4 linked regions of the Homo sapiens genome follow. The protein of the gene in region 3 interacts with the protein of the main gene of each other region in a pairwise test. Each region holds a gene or a part of one and is shown on either strand. Other genes may lie near its edges. The genes, in order: NUBP1, PICALM, TENM1 and PTPN12.

What was found.
Region 1: the proteins of TENM1 (region 3) and NUBP1 interact in a two-hybrid assay, tested with the Homo sapiens proteins (one study listed by BioGRID).
Region 2: the proteins of TENM1 (region 3) and PICALM interact in a two-hybrid assay, tested with the Homo sapiens proteins (one study listed by BioGRID).
Region 4: the proteins of TENM1 (region 3) and PTPN12 interact in a two-hybrid assay, tested with the Homo sapiens proteins (one study listed by BioGRID).

Annotation. Positions count from the first base shown.
Region 1 is NC_000016.10:10,760,830-10,767,856, reverse strand, and holds part of NUBP1 (cytosolic Fe-S cluster assembly factor NUBP1), read right to left. Parts: intron 6,946-7,027; exon of another isoform or gene 6,494-6,945; coding exon 6,383-6,493; exon of another isoform or gene 6,289-6,382; intron 6,101-6,288; coding exon 5,998-6,100; coding exon of another isoform or gene 5,994-5,997; intron 5,341-5,993; exon of another isoform or gene 1-5,340. UniProt on the Homo sapiens protein: Component of the cytosolic iron-sulfur (Fe/S) protein assembly (CIA) machinery. Required for maturation of extramitochondrial Fe-S proteins.
Region 2 is NC_000011.10:85,975,074-85,982,100, forward strand, and holds part of PICALM (phosphatidylinositol-binding clathrin assembly protein), read right to left. Parts: intron 6,931-7,027; coding exon 6,799-6,930; intron 6,703-6,798; coding exon 6,672-6,702; intron 6,156-6,671; coding exon 6,056-6,155; intron 3,021-6,055; coding exon of another isoform or gene 2,997-3,020; intron 1,610-2,996; coding exon 1,550-1,609; intron 1-1,549. UniProt on the Homo sapiens protein: Cytoplasmic adapter protein that plays a critical role in clathrin-mediated endocytosis which is important in processes such as internalization of cell receptors, synaptic transmission or removal of apoptotic cells.
Region 3 is NC_000023.11:125,201,296-125,208,150, reverse strand, and holds the start of TENM1 (teneurin-1 isoform 1 precursor), read left to right. Parts: upstream 1-3,838; 5' UTR 3,839-4,347; exon of another isoform or gene 4,348-4,351; intron 4,352-6,855. UniProt on the Homo sapiens protein: Involved in neural development, regulating the establishment of proper connectivity within the nervous system. May function as a cellular signal transducer.
Region 4 is NC_000007.14:77,596,274-77,603,300, reverse strand, and holds part of PTPN12 (tyrosine-protein phosphatase non-receptor type 12), read right to left. Parts: intron 5,460-7,027; coding exon 5,400-5,459; intron 2,638-5,399; coding exon 2,495-2,637; intron 1-2,494. UniProt on the Homo sapiens protein: Dephosphorylates a range of proteins, and thereby regulates cellular signaling cascades. Dephosphorylates cellular tyrosine kinases, such as ERBB2 and PTK2B/PYK2, and thereby regulates signaling via ERBB2 and PTK2B/PYK2.

The sequences.
Region 1 (7,027 bases), on a different chromosome or scaffold from region 3:
GGAAGATCTTGAGCCCGCTTCACTCGTAATGAAGAACAAAGTAGAAAAGACCAGTGGGGTCTCAGGGACCTTCCTTCCAGCAGGGTCCCCAGCCAGCATTTCAGCGTGGCTAAATAATCAGGTGGTGTACAGAAAATGCAGGTTCCAGGGCCCTACAGAGAACTGATTCAGCAGCTTCCACATGGGCCCAGGAGTCTGCATTTTAAGAGATTAGCTTTTGAGTGAAAGGATCATGAATGCACATGGTTAAAAAAAGTACAGAATGCAAAAGGATATGGCATAAAAGGCCAAGTCCGAAAAGGGCTACTAGTGTTCTAGGTGTCTTTCCAGAAAGATTATGCGCATATAAATGTGCACACTTGCATGTGTGCGCACACACATACACACACTCTCATATACCTAAAATACGAATGGGAGCACATGACACACACATTCTGCCTGCTGCTTTGTCTGTGTATAATTTTATCTTCCAGGTCATCTGTGCTGGTGTCTATCAGTCTGCTAGTCTTTCCCCGCCATGTGGCCATTGTTCCAGTCCCCTCCTATGCACACCCAGGTTTCTCTAGGACCATGTTATCCCAGAGCCAGGTGGACAGGACACAAGGGGCTAGGGGTCAATGGGGGTGTTCTCGCCTCCAGTCTGCCCTGCCAGCCCCCAGTCGTGGGTGGACCTGCCATCAGCTTGCTCTGCCCACTCCCCAGGCCTGAGCTGCTGGCGAAACAGGCAAGTGACTGCACTGCCCATGGCCGGTCACCAGCCTCAGGTGAACCCCAGGAGGGGTTCCTACCTAGCACTCATCATTTCCTCAACTTCACTACTGTGTCGCCCTGTGGGACAGGGAAGTCCAAGTCGGGGAAGAAGCCTGTGGGGAGGGGTTGGTGGGAGATGGGGAGCCCATATGGCCCAGTGAGTCAGGAAAATAGGGTCCAGAGGCAGGGAACATAAGGCCAATTCGCACTTGAGCCATAACAGGAAATGTCCTCTCCATAGGACGTATGCCGTAAATGACTTTGTAACTTTACTTCATCCTTTTCGTTTATATAGGGCGTACCTCAAGTAGAGGGTATTTAAACACAAAAACTCTGTAATGGGGCCTTTGAGCCCCTATTCTCAGGCCCGTTCTCCTCCCACACCGTGGAGTTGACTTTCATTTTCAATAAATCCCTTCCTTCCTTCCTTTCTTTGTGCGTTTTGTCCAATTTTTTGTTCCAGACACCAAGAACCTGGACATCCTCCGCCGTTAACGCTGGGCCCATGAGACCATGTGGAACTCGCTAGGGAGGCCCCTGAGTGCACGTTCGCTGGGCCAGACCTGGGAGGTTGGGGATCCCAGAATAGTCATGCTGGGGCTACTTTCTGTCCCTGACTTTCACCCAGGTCTCCCTTCCCCAGAGGGCTCCCCAGCCCCCAACACACATATATGCTCTAGTGTTTTCCCTTCCTAACTGCATTTCCCCCTGGGCTCCCACCTCTCCAAGAACGGGCAGCATTATCAGAACAGCTGGTGTGAGCACAGCCCTGTTCCAAGAGATCCCAGGCATCCTCTCACCCCACCCTGGCAGATCCCTCTCACTAGGCACCACTGTCACCTGCATTTTACACACGGGGCCATCGAGGCTGAGAGCGGAAATGACTAGCCCAAGTCCCACAGCTAGTGGTGGCGGAGCAGGGCTCTGAGGCCAGCCCTTCCTGTGATCCTCAGCACACCGGGACCAGGACCCATAGCACCAGAGCGCTGGCATCTGTAACTCTTTGCCACCATGTCCCCAGAGGAGACTGAAGTGCTGTCCTCATGCCTTCCTGTCTGTTCCTAGGAAGGTGGGTTTTCCCCCACTCTGTCCCCAGTGACCTTGCCAGATGCGTGTCTGTCACTTGGCCCTCATGCTCCACCCTCTTGGGTGGGTGACAGTGTTAACCACCCCTTCCTTTCTGGCACTCCCTGGCCTTGCTATCTGTGGCTTCCCCTCAAGGTGAGCTTCTGCAATGTGCCATTTGACACACAGGACCATGCCCACTAGAAGGCACTTAATGTTCTCAGCTCAGAATGAGCCTCGCAGCTGTCACTGGTGGCTCCTCTGCTTTGAAATTAGCTCTTGTGAACCACCTGGAACTTTGTTTCTTTGTGAAAAGTGGCCCTGAAAGGAAAGACCAGGGCCAATGCCAGGGCTTGGTGTGAGGGAGGTGGGAAGATGGAGGTTGCTGGCTCTTTGGAAGAAAAGCCGTATCAGGATCTAATAGCCCCAAGGTCACTTCCTGATCTGTCAGACAATGGCAAGGGCAGGCCTGTGGCTGGGCCCGTGGACATATTTGGGTGGGTCAGCAAGCATGCCATTTTTAAATTTTTTTTTGAGACAGGTTCTTGCTCTGTCGCCCAGGCTGGAGTGCAGTGGTGTGATCATGGCTCACTGCAACCTCAACCTCCCTGGGCTCAAGTGATCCTGCTAACTCAGCCTCCTGAGTAGCTGGGACCACAGGCACATGCCACCACACTGGGTGAATTTTTTCCTTTTTTTTTTTTTTTTTTTTTTAAGAGATGAGGTATCTTCCTGTGTTACCCAGGCTAGAGCATGGTTGTGTGTGTGTGTGTGTGTGTATTTAATGGAGTTAGTTGCTATCATTTAGTATCAGGAGACTTTGGGTAAGGATATAGATTTCTAGCTCTTCATTAAACCTTGGAAAATGTGGCAATTGTGATGGCCATAAGGACACACCTCTTGGATCTCTGGCAGCAGCTGCCATGCTCCAAAATCCACCACCACGTTTGTGTTGAGGCAATGCCACTCCCAGGCTGCTCCTAGCTAGTGACTGAGACGAGCATGGCACTCGGGCAGGCACGCTTCTGGGAGATGCAGCCCCTCTGATGGGTAAGTGGGCTCAGGAATGCCCTGGTGGCTGTGCCCAGCTTTCCTCGACAGCAGCCAAGACACTCCAGCAGACAGATGCTCCAACAGACTGACATACTCCAGCAGACTGAGATGCTCCAACAGACTGACATACTCCAGCAGACAGATGCTCCAACAGACTGACATACTCCAGCAGACTGAGATGCTCCAACAGACTGACATACTCCAGCAGACTGAGATGCTCCAACAGACTGACATACTCCAGCAGACTGAGATGCTCCAACAGACTGACATACTCCAGCAGACTGAGATGCTCCAATAGACCTACTCCAGCAGACTGAGATGCTCCAATAGACTGACATACTCCAGCAGACTGAGATGCTCCAATAGACTGACATACTCCAGCAGACTGAGATGCTCCAATAGACTGACATACTCCAGCAGACTGAGATGCTCCAATAGACAAATACTCCAGCAGAATGAGATGCTCCAATAGACAAATACTCCAGCAGACTGAGATGCTCCAATAGACTGACATACTCCAGCAGACTGAGATGCTCCAACACACTGGCATACTCCAGCAGACTGAGATTCTCCAATAGACAAATACTCCAGCAGACTGAGATGCTCCAACAGACTGGCATACTCCAGCAGACTGAGATGCTCCAATAGACTGCCACACTCCAGCAGACTGAGATGCTCCAATAGACAAATACTCCAGCAGACTGAGATGCCAAAAAGCAAAGTACACTGAGGTGCTCCAGCAGGCTAAGATGCTCCCATGGGCTGAGATGCTCCAGTGGGCTGAGACGCTCCTTCGGGCTGGGATGCTCCCGTGGGCTGAGATACTCCTGTGGGCTGAGATGCTCCTTTGAGTTGGGATGCTCCCGTGGGCTGAGATACTCCTGTGGGCTGAGATACTCCCTTGGGCTGGGATGCTCCAGTGGGCTGAGATGCTCCTTTGGGCTGGGATGCTCCCATGGGCTGAGGTACTCCTGTGGGCTGAGATGCTCCTTTGAGTTGGGATGCTCCCGTGGCCTGAGATACTCCTGTGGGCTGAGATACTCCCTTGGGCTGGGATGCTCCCATGGGCTGAGATGCTCTTGAGGGCTGGGATGCTCCCTTGGGCTGAGATGCTTCCAGGGGCTGAGATACTCCTATGGGCCGTGATGCTCTTTCGGGCTGATATGTTCCTTCCCCCACTCCTTCATCGTGGGCTAACGCTCTCCCTTGTCATTTTCTCCCACAGATGTTTCCCCTGACAAACGTCCTGCCCACCAATCCCATCTCGGCAGAGCTGAACTGTGGCAGAGGTGCAGGCTGGCAGGAATGGATGTGCCCTGGGCTGCTGCAAGCTCCTGTCCCCAATCACATCCATTCATGCAGCCCAACTGCCTCCAGGGGCCTCAGAGGGCAGCTCTCATCACCACTTCCGGCCACTGCAAAAGCTGCCTGGTGAGTGTTTTATGATGCTGGGGAAGGTTGAGAAAGCAGCTGTACTTTTCTGCATGTTGTTGGGGAAATCACATGCCAGAGAAGTATTGTGGGATGTGGGAATAAGGGAAAAAGGATTTGGGGACACAGCCTCCTGGGCACATGGGGTCTCTGGCGTTCTCCCGGGCTGTTCCCATCTTCAGAGTGGCCCTCGCACCCTACCCCCCTACCACTTCCTCGAGGCAGCCATCCCCCAACACTGTCCTCCTGGCTCCCGCTTTCTGCACGGCCCCTTGGCAATCCTGTCCATGTCCTGTGGCTTCAAAACTCAACTGCACGGACATGAACCACCTTCTCCTGACGGACCCCAGAACCTGCTGACAACCTGAGCCCCCGAGCCCCTTAGCCGCAGCACCCCAGAGGGCCCGGCCTCCCTCTACCACCCCTGCTTCACTGTCTCTGAGGGACGGACCCTCCTCCAGGTGACTTGTACTGGCAGCAGGGACAACCTTGACCCTCAGATGCCGTCACTTTCTCTCTTGTGTGTGTCCCTTCCTTTCTACACCAACGCCAGAACCCAGGGCCTCATCCTGAACCCCTATCCCAGGGCAGCCACTCCTGAGCCTCCTGTTCCCAGGCACATGACACTGACAGTCGTTTCCCACAGGCTCCCATTCTCCCCATGCAGCCCTTCCCCAAGGCTCCCCACGTGGCCTCCGCCCTCCCCGCCTCCAGGCTCTCCACGGGCCCCGCCCTCTCCCCAAGCACGCGGCCCCCACCCTCTCCTGGCCAGGCCATACTTCACCCGCCCGGCCCCTCTCTCCTGTCCCGGCACAGACACCTCACACTGGCCTTGGTTCCCTGACAAATGGAGTGGAAGTTCCGAGGCATGGGTGCAGCCGGCACTCCTGGATCCCGGCCTCCCCTCCAGCCTTCTCTCTCTGTTCTCCCCTCAGACCTAAAGGCGAGTGCTGGACGCCCCGCAGGAGCCCCACTAAAGGGCCCCAGTAACGGAGGCCCGCCCGGCTCCGCGGTCCTGGGGGACAGCAGCCTCCTGGGGGAGCAGCTTCGAGTGTAGGCCCTGCCCAGCGCCCCGCGGCGAGTGGGCGCCCGGCGGGCGTGTGGGTGGAGACGTGAAACCCCGTCCCTCCTTCAGCCTCAGGGCCACTCAGGGAGTGGGCATCTCTTGGGATCCTGGGAGACCCACGTACTTAAGAAGAGCATTTTTTGGGAACTTGGCCCCTGCTCGCAGGCCAGTGATCCGCGTTCCGGTCTGTCCCGGTGCTGGAGACAAAGGGGCCTCATCTGTGCCGTGCTGGCTTCTCCGGGCACAGGAGGCCCGGCCCCTTCCTAAGGGATTTTCACCTCAGGCCGCCTTCCTCTGTAACCTGGACGCCATGTGCATCCCCTGGAGCCGCCCCTCTATCGGGTGCCCTCCTCAGTCCCCTGCCACCACCACCCTCACCAACCTCTACCCCATTCTTCCAGGCCTCACCCCTCTGCCTGAGGCCTGCTTGCTCCCGCTACCTGCCCGCAGGGGTCTCGGCCTCTCTCCCGGTGGCCTCTTGGGGTGCCAGCTGGAGGGTGGGTCTGGCTCCAGCGCCCCATTGACCCTCCTCCTTCCATTGCCCCTCTCTGTAGCCGCCCCCTGTTGTGCCCGACCCGTGCCTGTGGGGCTGACCGAGGAGTGAGGTGCCGCCCCACACTGGGGTCACCCACCTATGAGCGGATCCAGGGGCACTCTGCCGAGGAGAGGGACCTCCAAGTCCTGGCACATGAGCTCCGCGCCCCCGGTTGTGGGAGGGAATATCTGAGATTCTTTCTGCAAGGCAAATTCAAAGGGGAGGAAACATAATTTTTTTGCAGAATCACAAGGATGGACCACATTTTAAAGAAACTTAAAAAAAAAAAAAAGGCTTAGTTTGAATGTGGAACCCTTAACACCTAAAGAACTTTCCTTTAGTCAGCAGAAAGGGATTTTAATTGTGATTCCACTTCCCAAAATGACAGGGAAAGCAGAAATAGTTTGCAGAGCAGCCTTCCGATCGTTTCCTCATCCATGAGAGCAAGATCTTGCTCGCCTGGCAGCCCCACGCGCCCTCACCTTGCACTTAGGACAGATGAAGCCACTCATGTTCTCCACCACCCCGATGATGGGCAGCTTCACCTTGCGGCAGAAGTTGATTTCTTTCCGGACATCCTGGAGTGACACCTCCTACGAAGGTGAAAAGACCAGTGATTCCAGCATCAAAGTGCGAGAAAGGGAATGTCTGTGCAACCGAGGGGATGGCTGCAATGCAGTGGATCTGCGATCATAAAGCCTTAGAGGTTTCTGCCCTGATAGGGTTTGGCTCTGTGTCCCCATCCAAATCTCAGCTCGAACTGTAATCCCCATCATCCCTACATCCCTACAGGAACAGGCAGTTCCTGGTGGGAGGTGATTGGATCATGGGGGCAGTTTCCCCCATGCTGGTCTCGATAGTGAGTTTTCACGAGATCTGATGGTTTTGTAAGTGTTTGACAGTTCCTCCTACACACTCTCTCTCTCACTGCTGCCACTGTGTAACATGTGCCTGCTTTGCCTTCCACCATGATTGTTAAGTTTCCTGGGGCCTTCCCAGCCATGCAGAACTGTGAATCAATGAAACCTCTTTCCCTTATAGGTTACCCAGTCTCAGGCAGTTCTTTACAGCAGTGTGAAAATGAACTAATGTATGCCCTCTGCCAAATCCATATTTATTTAGTACCT
Region 2 (7,027 bases), on a different chromosome or scaffold from region 3:
TAAACTTTATTGTATTACAACAGATAAAATGATTAAGACTAAGAGTTTCCAAATTTATCAGGTTTAGACATCAAGAAAACTTAAGACTCTGTCTTCGCTGCTAAGAAATTTCAAAGTAAATTTGTATAACAAATCAAGTACTTTTGCCATTATGCAAGTGATCACAAGTGAAGACAGTTGATTCTCTGAATAAGCCTGCTCTAGTTCTTCCATTTTATTTCATATAAGAATCAAGAAAGAGCTTAAACTACAAACCAGAGGTTAACTCTTTCTTGAGTAACTGAAAATACAATCTCAACCAAATATGTTTCTTTAAAAATTACCACTACAGGGTATAAAATTAACCTAGTAAGTGACAATACCTAGTGTAAAAATAATGCACAAACAGAATACTGTTTTGGTTAAAATGCAATGCTCTAAAATCTTTCCTTTCAAGAAGTTCTATTTATTGTTTCAAGCAGACTACTATTTGCATTTAGAGCTTCATTTTAAGTTTATGGCCTGAGTTTCTCAGCAGACTTTTTTTTTTTTTTTTTTTTTTGAGATGGAGTCTTGCTCCGTTGCCCAGACTGGAGTGCAGTGGCATGATCTCAACTCACTGTGACCTCTGCCTCCTGGGTTCAAGCCATTCTCCTGCCTCAGCCTCCCAAGTAGCTGGAATTACAGGTGTGCGCCACCATACCCAGCTAATTTTTGTATTTTTAGTAGAGACGGAGTTTCACCATATTGGTCAGGCTGGTCTTGAACTCCCAACCTCAGGTGATCCACCCACCTTGGCCTCCCAAAGTGCTGGGATTACAGGCGTAAGCCACCACACCCAGCCTCAGCAGACATTTTAATGCAATGACTATGAAAAAAAGCTGTGAAACTTCTCCACATGTATAAAAGGAGTTACTTCCATATCATATACATAAAGAAGTAACATAGCAGGCACAGTAGCAATACCAAGGGACACGGTACTGCCTTCTACCAGGAACAGTTCCTCAAATACATACCAGTGGGTTGAAGCTACTAGCACCATTTCTTTTCTAATTGAGTCTCTATATACTGAGAGTTGGGAAACTAAGGGCAATCTAAAATGCACATTGTGGCATTTTGAAAGGTTAAAAGACTGTTTTTGTACTGTAATAATCATTGTCACAGGAAAATTTCTCTAGCCTTTATCAGACTAAATTTATCTCTATACAATTCAAGTGTTAATCCCTCCCATGCCCTACAATATCAGGTTATAAGACCTCACTGGTATTTAATATATGGTCACAGCAACAAAGGCTTAGAATTAACATTAATGTTTGAAATATAAAAGGCCCAGCAAAGTTACGAGGAGAAAAATAAACCAAGTAATACTATGAACATTAATGCATAAGATCTCTTGTATAATGATTATTCTAGACATACTTATGAAACCAATGCTATGGTTCTACTGCATTAGGCACTAGGGCTAGGAGTATGAGGAGCACTAAATTCTTTTTTAGGTTAAATTGTAATAAAAACATGTTATATATGAATCAATATTTTTTCCAAAAGCTGTACCTAGGAAAATACTTACAATTCCATATCCTATCATGCCTGTTGGTGTAGTAGCAGGATAGGCCATTACAGGGGGTGCCTAACATAGTGAAAGGAAAAATGAACAAGAAAGTATAACTCATGTGTGTCAACTGAGTTCAAGGAATTAGTAGCTGTAGTTCCACTAAAAAGAATTGCTAAGACAGCTGTGAGTAAGTGACACTTGTGATCATTAAGAACTGTCGATTAATGGTCAGTGAAAAAAAGTGTTTTGAAATTAGCAGAAAAGCAGACTTATTAGAAGGATAACTATACCACTTAAACTTAGATACAGCAGTGATCTAAGATTTCATCATGCTTTTTACAGCTTTAAAAATCTTTAGATTTAAAAAAGTATCTTAAATAGTTCTAAATAGTTCTAAAATTTAAAGCCTATCACTATCATTAAAAAATGTCTACCCAGAAAAAGTATTATTGAATGTTTTCTTACTTAGGTACCTGATTGCTTTAGCATTCAAAGAAAAAAATGTAAAGATCTCAAATCAATCAATAACCTGATCTTCCAAAAAGTTAGTTTCTAAGGATCTTACTCACTCTTTTCAAAAAACTCCAAAGGTTTCAAACTACTATTGAGTATGACTATTTCTATGAGCCATAGTTCTTATATAGAGTATGTACGTTAGCTTTCTAATTTATTCCAAAAATTATTTAAGAGGAACAATCAATTAGGTCAGTTTATGCTTTCATGTTTAAAAGAACCATCTATCACTATGATGTTTAAGTTCCCCTCTTCCTACTACTTTGATTATCTGTAAACATACAATTTGAGAACAGAATCATTTTAGATATAGTTGCTGTCTTAACAACATTTCCTGTGTGTGTTTCTCATAATGAAAACTGAAATTGAATAAAGGTGAAAGACCAATAACACTGCTAAAACATAAAATAACTGAAATTATATGGCAATTTGAACATATGCATGGAGAAATTAAATGAAATATAACTTTAAAAAAATAACACTAAAGTGAATAGTTATAAGTTTAGTATTCGGGTGAGCGTGTAGGACTTATTGGTCTCTCCCTACTTAAAACCAAGATCTGCAAGAGCAGTAGACAAACTGCCAAGAAGAGCAGAAGCCTGTAAGATTTCATGCAGTTGTTATTTTAAACATTACCACAATCAACATTTCCCTTCATTCAGAAGTCATCAAGTGCATAGTGGCAGCACAGATACACACACAGACACCCAGCCATCTGGCAGCAAATGGCGGAATATTAAGCAAGAAAAAAAATCGGTATTTCCCATGCCACCATCAGAATCAATTCTGCAACACACCCATGAAATCAGTAGATGCTAGGAAGAATTTCTGGCACATTGAAAATCTGAATGTGAAAACAAGTAATAGCTGAAAGGTTATGAGATTCTGCTACAGCAGTGGTTAATAGCATGCCAATTTATTGCAAAAAGGCTCGTTTTTGGTCACTTACGTATTGTGGAAAATGCATGCCATTCTGTTTTTCCCAGGGAGAACAATTACATAATGCAATAACACTGGATTAGAACAAGTACTTACACAACAGAAAATACACAGAGAGCATTTTAGTTCACATGTACATTCACTAACTACCTAAAATCCCTTGTATTTCCAGTATCTAATGAAAGAACATCTATACTAAAACACTATCAAGGTTGACAAGGGAATTGTAGTCTTTGGCCTCATCTCTTTATATAAAAAATAGTTTATTGATTACAAGTACCATTAAAACATCAATTCTATCAACAGTGTCAACAGTGCAAAATTTTGGGCATTGCATAAACAGGGTTGCATCAGATGTCTACCACAGAAAAAAAGCAAGCACTAATTAAAAGAATTTGTAGTATAATATATATTTTAATAAAATTCCAATGAATTTGTGTTAAATTTAAAAAACACTGAAAAACCTTGACAGTGTTTAAGGATTAATAAAAAGGTTAGAAATGTAAAGAAATGTCAAAAGCAGCAGTTTATCTTAAGTAGTGAATCACATTATCAGCCCCAAACATTAGCCATTAAAAAGAAAACTCCATAAAATACATATAAATATTTAAGCAAAATCCTTAGGAGATGATACACATTACCATATATAACACAGCAAGATAAAGACTGTTACCTTATCAACTTAAATACAAATTCTACATGACTAAATACCTACTACATTTTAGTAGTCAGTCTTAAGTGCTATCTATGAACTCCTAATACTTCATATAGATTAATACTAACTTAATATAAGAAAATATTCATTATATTTTAATAGCAGCACTGGTATTTATATCATTCCTCATACATCATCAATGTCATAATTCACACGAGTCCATAAAATCCACTACTCTAAACTCCTACCATACCCTAGTCAGTGAGGTGTGTTATAGTGGGAAGAAGACTGGATTCAGAGTCAAAGAGATGGATTTCAACTTAAATCTGCTTTTCAACTGCTTTGCACTTAGGGAAAAAAAAAATCTTTAGAAGTGGGGTGATACATGCTCCAATTCCCTCAAGACAGCAACATTTACATGTTTAAGATTGTGTATTTGTGTGTATAAAAATCTAAACTACTTAAATGCAAAGTTTTAAAATCAGTGATGATAGGCTGGGCGTGGTAGCTCAGGCCTGTAATCCCAGCACTCTGGGAGGCTGAGGCGGGTGGATCACTTGAGGTCAGCAGTTCAAGACCAGCCTGGCCAACATAATAAAACCCAGTCTCTACTAAAAATTTAAAAATTAGCTGGACCTGGTGGTGGGCACCTGTAATCCCAGCTACTCGGGAGGCTAAGGCAGGAGAATCACTTGAACCTGGGAGGCAGAGGTTGCAGTGAGCTGAGGTCGCGCCACTGCAATGTAGCCTGGGCAAAAGAGCAAGACTCCGTCACAAAAAAAAAAAAAATACAAAATAATAAAATTAGTGATGGCAATGAACACTGTCTGAAAGAAAACAAAAACAACAACAAAAAAACACTGCCTTAAAAAGGTAGCTAAATCTCAATATTACTTTCCATTTATGAAGTCTTAAGCTATATAATAAAATGCACAAATTTTAACAAACATACTATTTTTAGCTCAGTCCTACTAATTTTAACATATCATTAACCCACGGAAAACAGGGCAGTGCTCTGGAAGTGGCTATAAGGACAACCGCAGCCTCTAACAGTAACAGGACAGCTGTCAGTAACGTGTAGCCCGTGTAATCAAAACACAGCTACTAGCCTACTGTCTGGAGAAAGAATGCTTCAAACTTTTCCACAAGGAGTTTTCTTTGACTGACGAAAATTTGTTGGTTGGTAAGATAGAAACTGGCCAAGGACAGGAGAATAGCCACAGAGCTATTCTGGGTCTACCATACCTTACAGTAATTAAAACATACTAAAACCTCTTCATTACTAGATGCTAATTATTTAATTAGAAAATACAGTTAATCCTCATTATTCATGGATTCCATATTTGCAAATTCACCTACATGATAAACTTTGTGACACCAAAAATCAACACTCCTGGTGCTTTCAAGGCCATTCATGCTCATTTGCAGAGGGGCAAAAATTTGACTCATCCAATACAGTTCACCTCCAGCTGAGATGGAACAAAGGACACTCTGCCTTGGTTCAGCTCTCATACCAGACCAGAGGATAGAGAAGGAGGATGGGGAGTCCATCATACTGCAAGAAACTCTGACTCTGGGGCCAGCTGGACAGGGCTAAAATTCCAACTCTGGCACCAGTTAGTGCGACAGCCTTAAGCAAGTCACTTAACACTTCTGAACTTTATTTCCTCTTTCATAAAATAAATAGAATATACTAGAATGAGGTTTTCTAAAAGGACCGTCTATGTGACATATACATATATGCATATATTTCCCCCAGCAAGGGTTCAGTGTTCACTAATTCAGTGTTTGGGGTGACTTAAGTACTTAACTGCCACAAATAATGAGTATCAACTGTGTAAGTTATATGACATATATATAATTGCCAAACACATTGTCATATATATAAATTATATGACAAAACCGAAGCAAGTATAGTTTCTTTACCAATAATGAAATCACAAGATTTTGTATTTTAGAAAAATAAATAAAAAATTTGAGGTCAGTAATATAGAGTAGTGATTAAGGACATATGTTCTATAGTTAGGCTGCCTAGGTTATAAAAATTCAACTCATCATTTAAGATCTCTGTAATCCTGAGCACATTGCTTAATAACTCTGAGCCTCCACTTCCTCATCTGTAAAATAGGGATAATAATAGTGACTAACACATTAATAGGAGGATTATAAAAAATAAAACATTATTATTTACTGGAATATGTCTGGCACAAAGTAACCCTTAAATACTTGTTAGCCACTAAAATGTATCTGGTAAATATAGGCAACCAGCTTCCTTTGAAAGAAATACAATTACTTATACTTCTAAACTCAGTAACAATCCTTCTATTTATGTCTATCACTTTAAAAACATTTTCATGTTACATATTTAACTAAATTATTCAACTGTTAGTCTATCAGGAGCTTTTTCAACTCACCATTGTTGCAGCATTCCAAGCGGTTGTTGGTGCAACCTTTGGTTGCCAGTTAGATCCCCCAGTTAACTTCTTTTCACCTGGTTGACTCCAATTTACATCACTTTAAATAAACATAAGTGAGAATATTAAATGTCTCTAATTATAAAGTTTCCTTAGCTATATACTTATATAGAACAGAGTAAGATAGAGACTTGAGGCTGGGCGTGGTGGCTCATGCCTGTAATCCCAGCACTTTGGGAGGCCAAGGTGGACAAATCACTTGAGGTCAGGAGATTGAGACCAACCTGGCTAACACGGCGAAACCCCGTCTCTACTAAAAATACAAAAAAATTAGCCAGGCATGGTGGTGGGTGCCTGTAGTCCAGCTACTTGAGAGGCTGAGGCAGAAGAACGGCGTGAATCCGGGAGGCGGAGCTTGCAGTGGGCCGAGATTGCGCCACTGTACTCCAGCCTGAGCAACAGAGCGAGACTCCGTGTCAAAAAAAAAAAAAAAAGATGCAGACTTGATATCTCTACACATATTTTTGAGAGGAAAGCCAAATCAACCCTCCAAATAACACATGGAGAAAACACTAAATAACACACGGAGAAAACAATGTGTATATTAAACACTCACTTCTTAGTGGTTCCATTTCCGATGCCAAGATCTAGGAAAGGAGAAAAACAAAAAAGCATTTTATAACACGAGACGCAGTTTAATAAAACAACATAAAAGAAGATTAACGTATCCAAAGACTACTTACTGCCCACAAGGTTGGCTAAAGATGAATCCAAGTCATCAGATACTAACTTGCTAGGTGGGAGTTTGGCAACAGGAAGGTTCTGGTTCTGAGAGGCCACTGTTGGTTTGAGAAGTCCACCTAGTTCATCAAAGCCTTAAAGTTACAAACAGACGAAATAGAATTTGTAAGGAACTTTATGACGCTATGGTTTTCTAAAGGAGGTCTTTGCCTTTTCTCCTTGTTTATTCAC
Region 3 (6,855 bases):
CTGTGAGTACAATGAAACTTCTTTCCTGTATAAGTTACTTAATCTCAGGTATGTCTTTATTGGCAGCGTGAGAATAGACTAATACAAATATTATTGTACTTACATTCTTATTATGAGGGTACTTAGAAACAAAACTGACATGTCATATTTTCCATTATGCATTCTTCTCACAGAATGCAACCTATAGATTAAAAATATATTTAAAAAATCAAGGCCAGAACATCTAAATATTGTTCTCTAGGAGTGAAATAGTCTAGATACACGGTAACAGTCACACAGTATATACTTGTTGATTAGCAAATTGTTCACACATCTTTGAACATTTCTTAGCTTCTTTAAGTCTCAATTTCTTTGCCTATTCCCAATGCTGGCACAGTTCCTGGAATATAGTAGATGTTCCATAATCACTTGCTGAATTGAATTTATGTAATTACATTAGTTTTGGGAATAAACATAAAAAGGTGTATGAGTGCATGTGTGTGTGTGTGTCTTTGTTAACAAAAAGGTATATATCTTAAAATTCCTAGCAAATTATTTTAATAATATACACTTGGCAACTGGACAACTGTCATATAGAGATTGCATGCTCCATTACAATCTGTTATATTTACATTGGCTATTCTGAAACTAGCAATTTAGTGTGTCTTCTTCCTGATATTCATATTTGAAATAGAAATTCTTGGTCCCATGAGCAAAACTACTTGAAAATTCTGCAATTTCATGTTGCTTAAATGTGTCTGGGGAATCTCTAAAGTTGAATAAATGCCTTAGGAAATCCACCTACAATATCAGGATATAGGCGTCTAGAAGCAGCAAATCAGTTCTTAGGAAACAGAGAAAAGTGACAGAGCCCTCTGTACTTCGGAATTAGGACTGGAAACAATGTTTTGAAGGAACTAAAGGGAGACAGGTGCAGACCAAATGAATTAAGGACACCAGGGAGCCACAGGAGACCAGTAAGGAAATGAGAGGGAAGAATGCTAGAGAAAATACAGCATAAAGAGGAGGTGGTAGAGAATTTCTAAAAAAAAATGATTACAGGGACTGCTGAATTGCCAGGAGAGAAACAAACTCGGCCTCCTTTCATGAAATCCCTAAGTATCAACTCTCCCTTTCTGCCAGTATCTTCAAGAAGAGTAACAAAGGAACAGCAAGAATGAGAGTGAGATAATCATGCTTTTAAATTCATATTCCATTTCCTTGGTCATTAGGGTTTGTCCATGTCCCATTTGGCCAGAATTCCCTTTTTGTTATGGGGAGTTCTTTTCTTAATCGCTGGTTACGGAAACACCCAGAGTATTTCCAGTCATTGGAGAAGTGACTGGCCAGATGTTTCTTTTTTTTCTCCTTCCAGAACTCTTTGGTAAGGATTGAGGAGGTATCCTGAAAGTCTTCCTTCCACAGTTCAGGGTTTGGGCAGTTCATAATGTGGAATCTTTATTTAGGATACTTAAATCTATATATGTTTATACAAATAACTTGTTTTTGTTTTGTAGGAGGGTAGTGGGTTTTAGGAAGGTTTCGTTTACATATTTGTGGCAAGACACAGGTTTTATACCCATCCTTTCACTACTGCTTTCTCAACAGCCCAACAGAGAGCCGGTGATAGAAGCAGTTGCTATGCCCCTACAGAGCCTGGTTGTCATCTTTTGTTTCTTTGTTGGCAGGGCGGTGGGGCGGGACGGGAGTGGGAGGGTGTTGAGCCGCAGGGATCCAAATGATTCCTGCCTGAAGCTGAAGACCTTGTTGGGAAGGGACGATGGGAATAAACGTGCTCTTGATTCCCTGATTCTTCCCCCTAGAGTGTTCAGCTCTTTGTATTTCCTCCCCTTGGTGGTGTGATGGTCTTACAATGCTCCCTCTTTGCAAATACCTATATCAAAAGCTGGGAAAATGGGAACACACGGTTCAGAGAACTCCCCCTGGCGTCACTCTGTACTACCTCTCTTTCTGAAACTGAATCTGGTCCCCCTGCTCAGGAGCACAGAGACCAGCCCGGAAGCCGACCTTGGGCAGCTGCCGCCACCCAGGGAAGGGAACAGTTGGAAGCTTTGGTGTTCGCCCACCGCGCCAAGAGGAACTCTTCCCGGTAACTAGCACCAGCCACGACTCCAAGCCTGCCTTATTGTAACCTCTAGCGGGTTCCCAACTCGGCAATAGCTTCTCGCTCTCCTGTCCCTGTTCTTGCGGAGGAAAATTTAAAACGTGCGTGCACATATACGCATTCACACACGCCCTTCTTTCTTTACTTAAAAAAAAAAAAATCAGTAAACGTCCTTCGCCCAAAGAATGTTCGACTCTTCACGCTCTCTTTTCTTTACCTAGAGGTCAGCAGTCCCTTGGGAGCACACGCGGTGCTCCCTAGCTGCTCTGCGCGCCCCCTACCTGCCTACGGCTGGGGTGGCACCGCGGGGCAGGAGGCCTGGGAATCCGCTAGACTCCTATTTCTCCAGTTTGTGCAGCTCCCCTGGCTCGGCACTTGGTATCTCCCACGGTCTTGCTCTCTGTGGGAAGCCGGAAAGAAGACTGCTGTGGGCGTCGCCGCCACCCCTCCCGGAACCAGAGCCTGCTCTAGCGTGCATCCAAGCCTCCTACTTCAGACTCACATCTGGCCCAGTCGGACAGATGTTAGCCGCTGGAGAGTGCCTCCATGCGAAGCGCCCCAAGTCCCGAGCATGCCCAGTCGGACTACTAAGGCTTCTGACGCGAGTTTCTGGGCGTGCAGATTCCGCTTCTCCGCTTTTTCGAGGAAGCTGAGGAGGGTTGGGAGGGAGGGAGGGATCCAGGGCTTGGGGCAGCGCGCTGGGTTCGCCCGAGTACGTGCCCTGGTGCCAGGCTGGGTGAGGGGCGGAGCCGTTTAGGGAGCCCAGGAACCTGGGCGGCCAGGCAGGGCAGGATCCCTTAGCGCTCCCCTCTTCCCCCAACCACCTTCAGGTGGACGTCGTTACTGCTGATCTGATGCGCCGCCAGTAGGCTGCATGTGGCCGGCCGGCCTTGGCGCTCTGGGGTCACACTGTCAGCAGGACGCAGTCGGCGGTGCACTCTCACCGACAGACGCACGAGAGCTTGTGGGTCGCTTATGCACCGCATTCACGGGCTTTTGGCTTTTCTGGAAGGCGGGGGAGAGGAGAATAAGAAAAGGAAACCAAACAATTTCTCTCCCCCCGCCCTTTTTTTTTTTTTTTTGCCAAAGTTATACTGGCAAAAGACTTCGCATTCTAAGTCAGTCCTGAGGCTTTGAACATAGAAGCAGTGATTGTGCTCCTGTGTGTGCGCTCGTGTGCGCGCGCGTGTGTGTGCACGCGATGTTTGTGTATGTCATGACTAGGTAACACTGTCCCAGGCTGATCCTGGGGTTGACAAATACTCATCCGAACCCCCCACCCCACCCCTCACCCTCAGGAGAAAGTAATTAAAAAAAAAAAAAAAAAAAAAACATCGAGTGAGTCACCTGGCCAGGCATCTATCCACTGTAGTAGGAAATCTAAATTTTGTTGATCCATATTTCCTTCCTCTGCTTCCATATCCAGCTTTCTCCTTCCCCTCTCCACCCTATAACACCCTGATCTTTCTCATTGCGACTTCCCTTCCTCTGCCCGATACTTGCTCCTTAAGCCCTTCTCCTCTTTCTCCTCCTCCTCCTCTCCCTCTCCTCCTCCCCCCACCTCCCTCCACCTCCCATCTCAGCTGCGGCTAAAACCTGGAGTCTTGGGGAAAAGGAGAAAAAAAAAAAAACCTCGGCTGTGAAGCTGTCAAACCGGGCATGCTCAGTAGACAGGGCAGGTTTTTTGGTCTCGAGTAGCGGAGAAACATTTTTTGCACCACCGCGACCAGCCTTAGAGCGCGGCGGCGGCGGCCACGGCAACATCAGCCCAGCCATCAGCCGAGCAGACGCCCAGCACCCGGGAGCGCGGCGAGCTTCGGCTCAGCCCGGAGTTCACCTCCGAGTGCCCCGGGGGCTGAGCTCACCCCTTCTGCTCTCTCACACACGAACACTCTCTTTCACTCACACACACACACGTATTCACACTCTCTCGCACACACATAGGACCCTGGGCGCAAGCACCCTTCTGGCAGCGGTCGTCCGCTGGTGCAATAGTAGCTAGGTTCGGTTCCTGCCTCCGGCGGCCGCCGGTTTAGAGCACCGCTGCCAGCAGCCGGAGGAGAGCAATGCGGGGGCCCGAGCGGCAGCTCGAACAGTAATGTGGATTTACAGTCGTTTCCCGCAGGAGTCGGCCGAGACGCCCTAAGTCCCGGGCACTGGCAGCGCCCGGCGGAGCCGAGCACCTGGCGAGGGGGCGGGGGAACAGCACCTGGGGACGCCGCCGAAACTTGCGCTTGGAATAGGTAGGTGCGTTTCTCCTGGCTCCCACCCCATTCCTTCTCGCTCCCGCCCGCCACCCCCAACCTTCTACCCCAAGGACTACAGGCGAACTTCGCCCCGAGGCTGCAGGCGGCGGATGGCGGCTCCTGGCTGTTAGCGGCCGGTTGAGTCCGCTCTGGGACTCCTGCCCGAGGTGGCAGAGCCTCCGCATCCTTCTTCTCCCGGTCTCCGCCGGCCATGGGGCTCTGGACCATCTGGGGCAGAAGGGAGGTCGGCCTTGTTCGCAGTTCAAGCTTCCAGCGGGCCCTGGGGACGCTGCCCTTCGAGGGCTCGCTGGGCTTCCCAGGCGGCACTTTTACCAACCAACTCCTTCAGTTCTGAGAGGGAGCCTCCTCGCCTCGGCTCTCGCGCAGAGCCCAGTCACTCTAACAAGTGGACCTGGGTGCTTGGGGTGAGGATGGGAGGCTCGGTCTAAAAAGAAAGAAAGGGGCGCTTCTCTGGCATCCCTCCCACCCTGGAGCGTTCGCCTGGGGCTCTGCCACTGGGGTCCAGGTCCTGCTGTCTCCGCAGAGAATATGCCCAAGGGCTAGGACGCACTTTAGTACCTGTTTGCTTCTGAATTTCTATTTGAGCCTCACTCAGGGAGCCCGGGTTCCCGGGGGAACTGCAGGACCTCCTAACCTACGCCGCCGTCGAGGGCCCCACCCGATGCGTCCTCCCTATACCTTTGTCAATCTTTGTCAAAAGAGATAGTCATTACAACCCAGGCGGTGCTCCAGGAGCCGTCGGTGTTGACTTTAACCATGCGCTCCAATGTGCGGGTTTGTGTGTTTCCGCATTTCATCCAGAGACTTGGTCCCCGAGATTCAGCAACGGCCAGCATATCTGCGAGCGCCAAGCACCCGCTAGGCAGGCTTGGGGAAATGTAACCTCACTTTCTTCCACTCCATAACAGGAGGATTGCCAATTTAGTTTCAGGATGCTTTGCCTAGAGGCGGAGAAGGGGAGATTGTTAGCGCTACTTGGTGAGTGGATGTGTTTGCAGTCAGGAGTGTATTTAAACATTTCAGTGAACCCGATGCAGTCAGTTGTTTACAATTGCGGAGACAGAGGATCTCACTCCACTAGTAGATGTTTCCACGTCTGTGTCGCCACTGGGAGAGTAGGGGCGGGGGCGGGGGCTGGTTTGCAGCTCGTACTCGCCGTCGGCAGCTTCGGGTTGAGCAGATCTGCATCACTGCTACTGGCGATATGCTAATAGGGGTAGAAAAGCTCTACATCTCCAATATGAAGCAATTGGTCAGTAAACGTCCTGAACTTAACCGTTGTTTTCCTGGGATACCAACCTGGAGGTGTTTTTGAGGTGGCCCAAAGAAATACAAAGAGAAGTTCTCAGTGCTACAGAAAGGAAATTAGTAGCCATTTGGTTTTAAAGACCAAAAGGAAACGAAACATCCCAGTGCACTCTAATAGGTACTGTTAGATTAGCGTTTAATTGATCGCGTTTGTGACGAGTAAGTGTCGCAGACAGCTTCCTTGAATTTTAGACTCTTGTTCTATGATTATAATTAACAAGCCAGGTAACAATGTACTGTGAGAATCAATTGCTACTCTTAACGTGTTTGAGGAGAACATGGCAAATGTCTGCTCTATTATATTTTTTGGCTGAAATAGCCCAGTTCATCTTCCTAGTCCGAAGTCTTCTGATCTGGAGCAGTAGATACTCCAGTGTTACCAAGAAAGGGAAGAGTCTAAGAGGGAAAGGCTTAAAAAACAAAATTAATGAAAAGGCGATCCACACCTTTAACTTCTGCTCCATGATTACCCAGCATCTGCTTGCTTGCTCACCCCCGCTCCTTGCTCTTCATATCTGCAACGTGGGGAAAAATGAATTTTCATAAGGCATAGTAAGACCCTCAAAGTACATAACTGGAGAAACAGAATCCCAATTTTGCCATTTTAGTTCAAGTTCATAACACTATTTTGTGATGCATTAAATAATTTACTATGGCAAAGTTGGGGTTTTTAAGAGTAATTAAAAGCTTTCAGGTATGACAAAATAATGTTGAAAACTTTTCATGATTAAAGAAAGTCGAAATATGCATTTAAAAAGGGATCAGGTAATTCCTAAAATAAATCCATGCTCTAAATATTATTTAAAAGTTTTCAGGTTGTTCCCCAGAATGTTTCTGAAAAACAGGTGTTTCTATAAAACAACTCTATGAAGAAATGTTAACATTTTCATAATAAAACTAGTAGAGTCCAGTCCTGAGAACAATGTCAGCTATACATAGCAGAAAAAAACCCCACAAATATTTTTGCATACATGAAGTAGTATTTTCCATTAGGTTTAGGTTCCAATTATGAATTAGGGACAGTCATGTCATTTGACAAAATATACAGTGAGGCTAAAGGAAAGAATGCTTTGTAGAATCATTGTGCTGTAAAGGTGATTAAGATTTCAAATATTCAAACGTTTAGGTGTATTAAAATAAAATTGTATTATACATAACTATCATCACATTCAAAGG
Region 4 (7,027 bases), on a different chromosome or scaffold from region 3:
ATGAAAAGCCTTCCTATACAAATGGATTTATGATTGAACAGGAAATTATTTTAACTAACTTATAAGAAGTCAAAGTGAAAGCAATTTCTTTATCTTTTAATTCTATAATTAAACATATTGTTTATTTTTAACTGGTCAATCCTACTTAATTAAATGGTCAACTAACCACTGAATTAACCACAGAAAAAAATAGTTTTAATGAACCAAGTTGTTAACTGATTCCCACATCTCCACCAGCAAGTTACTTTCCTGGCCCATGAATAAAAAGTAGCCCTTTTACTTCGTTAATTATGAGCATTACGGTCAAACCAAGTGAATAAGAAAACTATCTTCAATGCTTCAACTCCACTGAAAAAATATTTTAACTATGTAAATAATAAAAAATAAATCTCTTAAGTTTGAAAAATCTCATTTACTTTTTATAACAAATGTGAATGCAGATAACAAGTCCCTTAGAGGAATAAATTGATAGCAGTCTTATGAAGTAAGTACTATGACTGTAAGGCCTTTAGAAGAATCTAATGTAAACTAAAAATTCAGAGTAGAAAAACTGTCTAAGGATTCAAGTAGCTTCTACTATGTAGAAACCCATACCTATATAATGAAATTCCAAAAATTAGGTTTCAAAATATCCTGTATCACCCATATTATAATGATACCTATATTCTTTTTTTTTTTTTAAAAGATAGGGTCTACTATGTCACCCAGGCTGGAGTGCAGTAGTGTAATTGGTGTCTACTGCAGCCTCAAAGTTCTGGGCTCAAGCAATCATCCTGCCTCGGCCTCCCAAAGCACTGAGCCACTATACCCGGTCATGACACTTATTGCAAACATTTATTATTTTCTTGACTAATTCAGTTTTGTGCTTTTCCTCTTAAAGGGGTATTTTCCATTACACTCCTAAATCCATAATACAAATTTAGCTTTGTTTTATGTATTACATATAATGTATACATATACATATATGTGCATATGTATTATGTATATTTAGCTTTGTATTATTTGTATGAGAATGACCAGATGACAGAAATAAGCCAAAATGTTAGATTAAGAAAAGTTGGTTATCTTAAACTGATTTCTCTTAGCTAAAATATATTATACATTAACCCCCCTTCTAGAATACAAAATTAACTGCCCCCCAAGAATAAACAAATCTCATGTTCATTCCCCCAAAGTCAAAGGAAGAGTTTACATGATTTCTTAACACATCCAAACGAGTAATTTTGCAAAACCTAACTGAACTTCAAATATTATTTGAATAAATGAAAAGATTTATATTGTGCAATTTAAAGTAGGTGCACCTATACTTGTCCTTTCACATTCAGAGGTAGCTTAACTAGGTCAGTAATCATTGAATTTTATGTAATCCTTATAATGAAGTAATCTACTATAAAACATAATAAAAATGTCTAGTAAATGTGTATCAATAGTTTTTATTACTTTACTACAAGAATGCTTGCTTCCGGCTTTAAATTTTTCAGTAGCTATAAATTATAAAATTTCATGATATGACAGGAAGTGGTGCAAACGTGGAAACTGATGTTCCCCAAGAATAAAAACAGCATTTAGTTTTTCATCAAACTAAAACACACTTTTTCATCTCAATGTAACAGCTCTGAGATTGGTATGTATCTTACCACCAATGGCTTCTTACAAATGACATTGTCCCCTTATAATTGGCAGTGATTTTTTTACTGTTAATATATATAATAATGGTGTGTCTTAGAATTGATGATATCTTAGATCAATAAGACCTACGTATGTACATCTTACATATATTAAAAAAAGAAAGTCATGTTGCCAGGCGTAGTGGCTCACGCCTGTAAGCCCAAGACTCTGGGAGAGCAAAGTGGGAGAATCACTTGAGGACAGGAGTTCGGATCAGCCTGGGCAACAGAGCAAGACTTGGTCTCTTAAAAAAAATTTTTTTTAATTAAAAAAAATTAGTTCAGTGTGGTAGCACATGCCTGTAGTCCTAGCTACTTGGGAAGCTGAGGCAGAAGGATCACGTCAGGCCAGGAGTTTGAGTTTACAGTAAGCTATGATTGTGCCACTGCACTCCAACCTGGGCATCAGAGCAATATCCTGTTTTTAAAAATCTCATGTCAGTGTTTATCAGGAATGAAAATTGCTTGGTCATTGTTTCAGGGAAATTGATTAAAAGAAAATACTACCATACTGACTTTAGAAAGTAGAGTATGATGAGGATCTGAGATTATATGCTCTAATCAGTGAACAGTAAAAAGAGTATGTTCTATAGCTTCCCACCATGTGAATACTATTTTCAAATAGATGATCCTGTGTTTTAATGCAACAATACTCTAAACGGTCTGTCAACCAAATGAGACCACATCAACTTACAAGGCCCTAGTCCCAAACATTGTATCAAGGCTAGGAGAAATTCAAGATTACTAACATATTAATGCAGAAATAAAACCTTGTGTAACATCAAACTTAAATAATGTATTTATAAACTTGGGAAATTCTTTTGTACCTGCAATGAATACAAATAGGAACATCTTCATGTTCTTGATATTTCCTCATTAAGCTTATCATGTCCAGAATAGAATCAAATGATGAAGGAACATCATGGTCTGGCCAGTTCACATAATGAAACTGATACAGCCTACGAGATTCCTTCAAGAAAAACAGAAAGTCAACAATTATGAAAATACTTTGCAAAGTTTAAAGTTGCACAGCTCATTTAAACTGCCATTTCTAAGAAATTTGTGTGGCATTTAGCACTGCTTTTAAAAAAACCCAAATAAATAATAGCCAACACTTATTGACTGTTAAACACATGCCAAATACCTAAGGGCTTCACATGTAACAATTTAATTTCCATGAGGAAAGTACTGTTAATACCATCCTCATTTTATAACTGAGATATACAGATAAAATAACTTGCCCAAACTTTCCTAAGAAGTGACAAGTGTGGGCTCTAAACCAGGCAGTTCTACTTCCAGAGCATGTACTGTAAACATAACACTATATATACTATTTAACTAATCTACACTATTAAATGGATGAGCAATATACCGTAAGCACCATGTTAGAGTAGGTTAGAGTAGTATTCATTGTAATCAGAAGACTAACAGAACATTAAACTGAAAAAGAATGGAGAGATGAATTTGTCCAATGCCAAACTCACTAGTCTTCTTACAGATTAGTGGTTCTCAATATACGGTCTGGGTACCCCCTCCCCTCAACCCTTTTGAGGGAGTCTATGAGCTTTAAATAATTCTCAGAATAATACTAAAATGTTACGTGCCTTATTCTTTAACAGCCAATACAATATATGCTTATGTATTCATGTTTTTTAAAAATTTCTCAGTTTTAATTTCAAATATAGTATATACTGAAAGATACAACCCCCAGAAACAAAAACTTTGGGATCCTCAATAACTTTGAAGAATGTAAAGGAGTACTGATGTCAAATGTTTTGAGAATGGTTATTGCAGGTGTTTAACAGAAAGAGCAATACTCGGAATCTAAGCAAACCATACTCAAATTCCTACTTTGGCCATTTCCTAAATAACTTCAGGTAAGCTATTTAACTTCTTAAAGCTTCTGTATCTTCATCTATGTGCAACAGACGTAACAGTATCTGGATATGATGCAGTTAGCAGAATTAAGATGCCTGATCTACCACAGAAATTCATTAAGGTACTTATTATTATTACCGTAGATTAAAAAATTAGCAACCAGTCCAGATTCAGTGGCTCACATCTGTAATCCCAACACTTTGGGTGGCCAATGCAAAAGGCAAGATCACTCAAGGCCAGGAATTTGACAGCAGCCTGAGCAACATGGCAAGACTTCATCTCTATAAACTATAAAAAATTTAGCTGGGTTTGGTGGCTCATCCCTATAGTCTCAGATACTAGGAAGGTGGAGATGGGAGGACTGCTTGAGCTCAGGAGTTTGAGTCCAGCCTGGGCAATATATAGTGAGACCCTGTTGCCAAAAAAAAAAAAAAAAAAGTCGGGGCGCTGTGGGGGGTTTCAACTAAAAACAATATATATCTAAATGAAGACTTAGCTTTGATAGTGACTTTTCTTTAACAAATTGTAAACCAGTAAAACAGGGTAATAATTATATAAACAATGCAATAACCTGCTTACTGCAATAGAATAAAAATATTTGCTGCAAAGAAGGTATAACTATTCCAAATTTAACAAATTTAGGGTATGTTATAATTAATATTACTTTTTATGTAATGTGATAAGCATAAATGTCAAGACTAAATATTACACTCTCATTTCATCTTCGTAACTAAAAAATTACCAAATTTCATTAATTATGTTAAATAACATAGTATACTATTTATATAGCTTGTTTTATTTTTTTAGTAGCTAAAAGTTGATTAGTTTGCAAAGACAAAAACTAACTTCACATGCTTTAAAAATAAAAATTGCTGTTACTTTTTTTACTTACAAAAAACTATAAAGCAGATATAAAGCAAAATAATAATATATATTATATATATTATTTGCATTTTGCAGATATAAAGCAAAATAATTTTCTAGCAAACCCATTTTACCAAATAAAACATTTAGGTAGTAGTATTATATTTTCTATTTTTAAAACATTTATTTTATTTTTTATTTTATTTTTTGAGACAGAGTCTTGCTCTGTTGCCCAGGCTAGAGTGCAGTGGCACCATCTCGGCTTATTGCAACCTCTGTCTCCCAGGCTCAAGCAATTCAAGTGCCTCAGCCTCCTGAGTAGCTGGGATTATAGGTGTGCACCACCATGCCCAGCTAATTTTAGTATTTTTTAGTAGAGATGGGGCTTCGCCGTGTTGGCCAGGCTGGTCTTGAACTCCTGGCCTCAAGTGACCAACCCACCTCAGCCACCCAAAGTGTTGGGGATTACAGGAGTGAGCCACCATACCTGGCCTCAACTTTTATTTTGGATTAAGGGGTACATGTGCAGCTTACATGGGTGTATTGTATAATGCTGAGGTCTGGAATACAAATGATCCTTACCAAAGGAGTGAGCATACTACCCAATAGGTGGTTTTTCAGCCCACGCTCCCCTCCCTCTCTATGTCTTCTCTTTGAAAACTATTCTCTATTCTCAAAACCATTTTTGAGAGTCTCCCTCTGTTGCCCAGGCTGGAGTGCAGTGGCACAATCATGGCTCACTGCAGCCTCAACCTCCCGGGCTCAGCCTTCTGAGTGAGTGGGACTATGGGCACATGCCACCATGCCCGGCTAACTTTTTTCTTTTTGTAGACACAAGATCTCACTATGTTGCCCAGGCTAGTCTTGAACCCCTGGACTCAAGTCACCCTCCCACTTCAGCCTCCCAAAGTGTTGGGATTACAGGCATGAGCCACTGCACCCAGCCTGAAAACTATTCTTACAGATAGTCTATAAATGGTAAGTACCTACATTTTGAAATTCAAGTAAGAGTGTCCTGATGAAGTAGTCTGTTCTTGCTTGTTCATCCTCCTAAATAAAGAGAAACATTTCTAAGTCAGTGAAAACGTTAAAACAAAAAGACACATCAAAACAAATAAAATACTTGTATCAAAGTCCACAATATAAAATTAATCTTTAAAATTCCAGATGTACCTGATAATTATAAAAAAATTCTAAAAGTCATCAAACATTTGAAATGTTTGAAGTGATAGACATGCTAATTATCCTGATTTAGTCACTCCACATTTTAAATTACACATACATGTACCAAAATCACATGTACCCCATTAATAAGTATAGATACTATGTGTCAATTAAAAATAATAAAAGGAAAAAAAGAGCTAGTAAGCCATGAAAAGACATGGATGAACCCTAAATGCACATTACTAAGTGAAATAAGCCAATCTGAAAAGGCTACATACTGTATGATTCAAACTATATGACTTCTGAGCTGGGAGCAGTGGCTCATGCCTGTAATTCCAGCACTTCAGGAGGCTGAGGCAGGTGGATCACTTGAGGTCAGGAGTTCGAGACCAGCCTGGCCAACATGGTAAAACCCCATCTCTACGAAAATACAAAACTTAGCTGTGTGTGGTGGCGCGCACCTGTAATCCCAGCTACTCAGGAGGTTGAGGCAGTAGAATTGCTTGAACCCAGGAGGCAGAGGTTATAGTGAGCTGAGATAGTGCCACCGCACTCCAGCCTGGGCGACAGAGCAAGACTCCGTCTCAAAACAAACAAACAAACAAACAAAAACAAACTATATGACTTCTGAAAAAGGCAAAACTATGGAGACAGTAAAAATAATGACTACCTAGGGTTGGGAAGGGGGTGAGATGAATGAATAGGTGGAGCACAGGACTTTTAGAGCAATGACACTATTCTGTATGATACCACAATGGTGGATACACGTCATCATATATTTCTTCAAACCCACAGAATGTATAGCACCAAGAATGAACCCTAATGTAAAATGTGAACTCTTGGTGATAATGACTTGTCAATGTAGGTTTGTGAATTGTAACAAAGAGACTGCTCTGGTAGGGAATGTTGATAATGAGGGCTACATGTGTGGGGACAGGGTGTATATAAGAAATCTCTGTACCTTCCTCTCAATTTTGCTGTAAACCTAAAACTGCTCTAAAAAAAATAGTCTTGAAAAAGTTAGGCAGTGGCTCACACCTGTAATGCCAGTAGTTTGAGAGGCTGAGGTGGACGGATCGCTTTAGCCTAGGGGTTCAAGACCAGCCTGAACAATATAGCAGAACCCTGTCTCTACAAAAAAATACAAAAACTAGCTGGACATTGAGGCGTAAGCCTGTGCTCTCAGCTACTTGGGAGGCTGAGGTAGGTGGATCACTAAGCCCAGCAGTGAGGCCAAGGCTATATAGTGAGCTGCGATCACGTCGCTGCATTCCAGTCTGGGTGACACAGTGAGACCCTGTCTCAAAACAAAAAACACTAAAAAAAAAATTTTTTTAAAAACCTTAAAATGAAGTCTCCTATCAGATAAAGTCTCCTAACAGATAGACCCAAACAATATGTACAAATAAGAGAAGTGAATTTGGGAATCAAGTTACCTACTAAACTAAGAAACT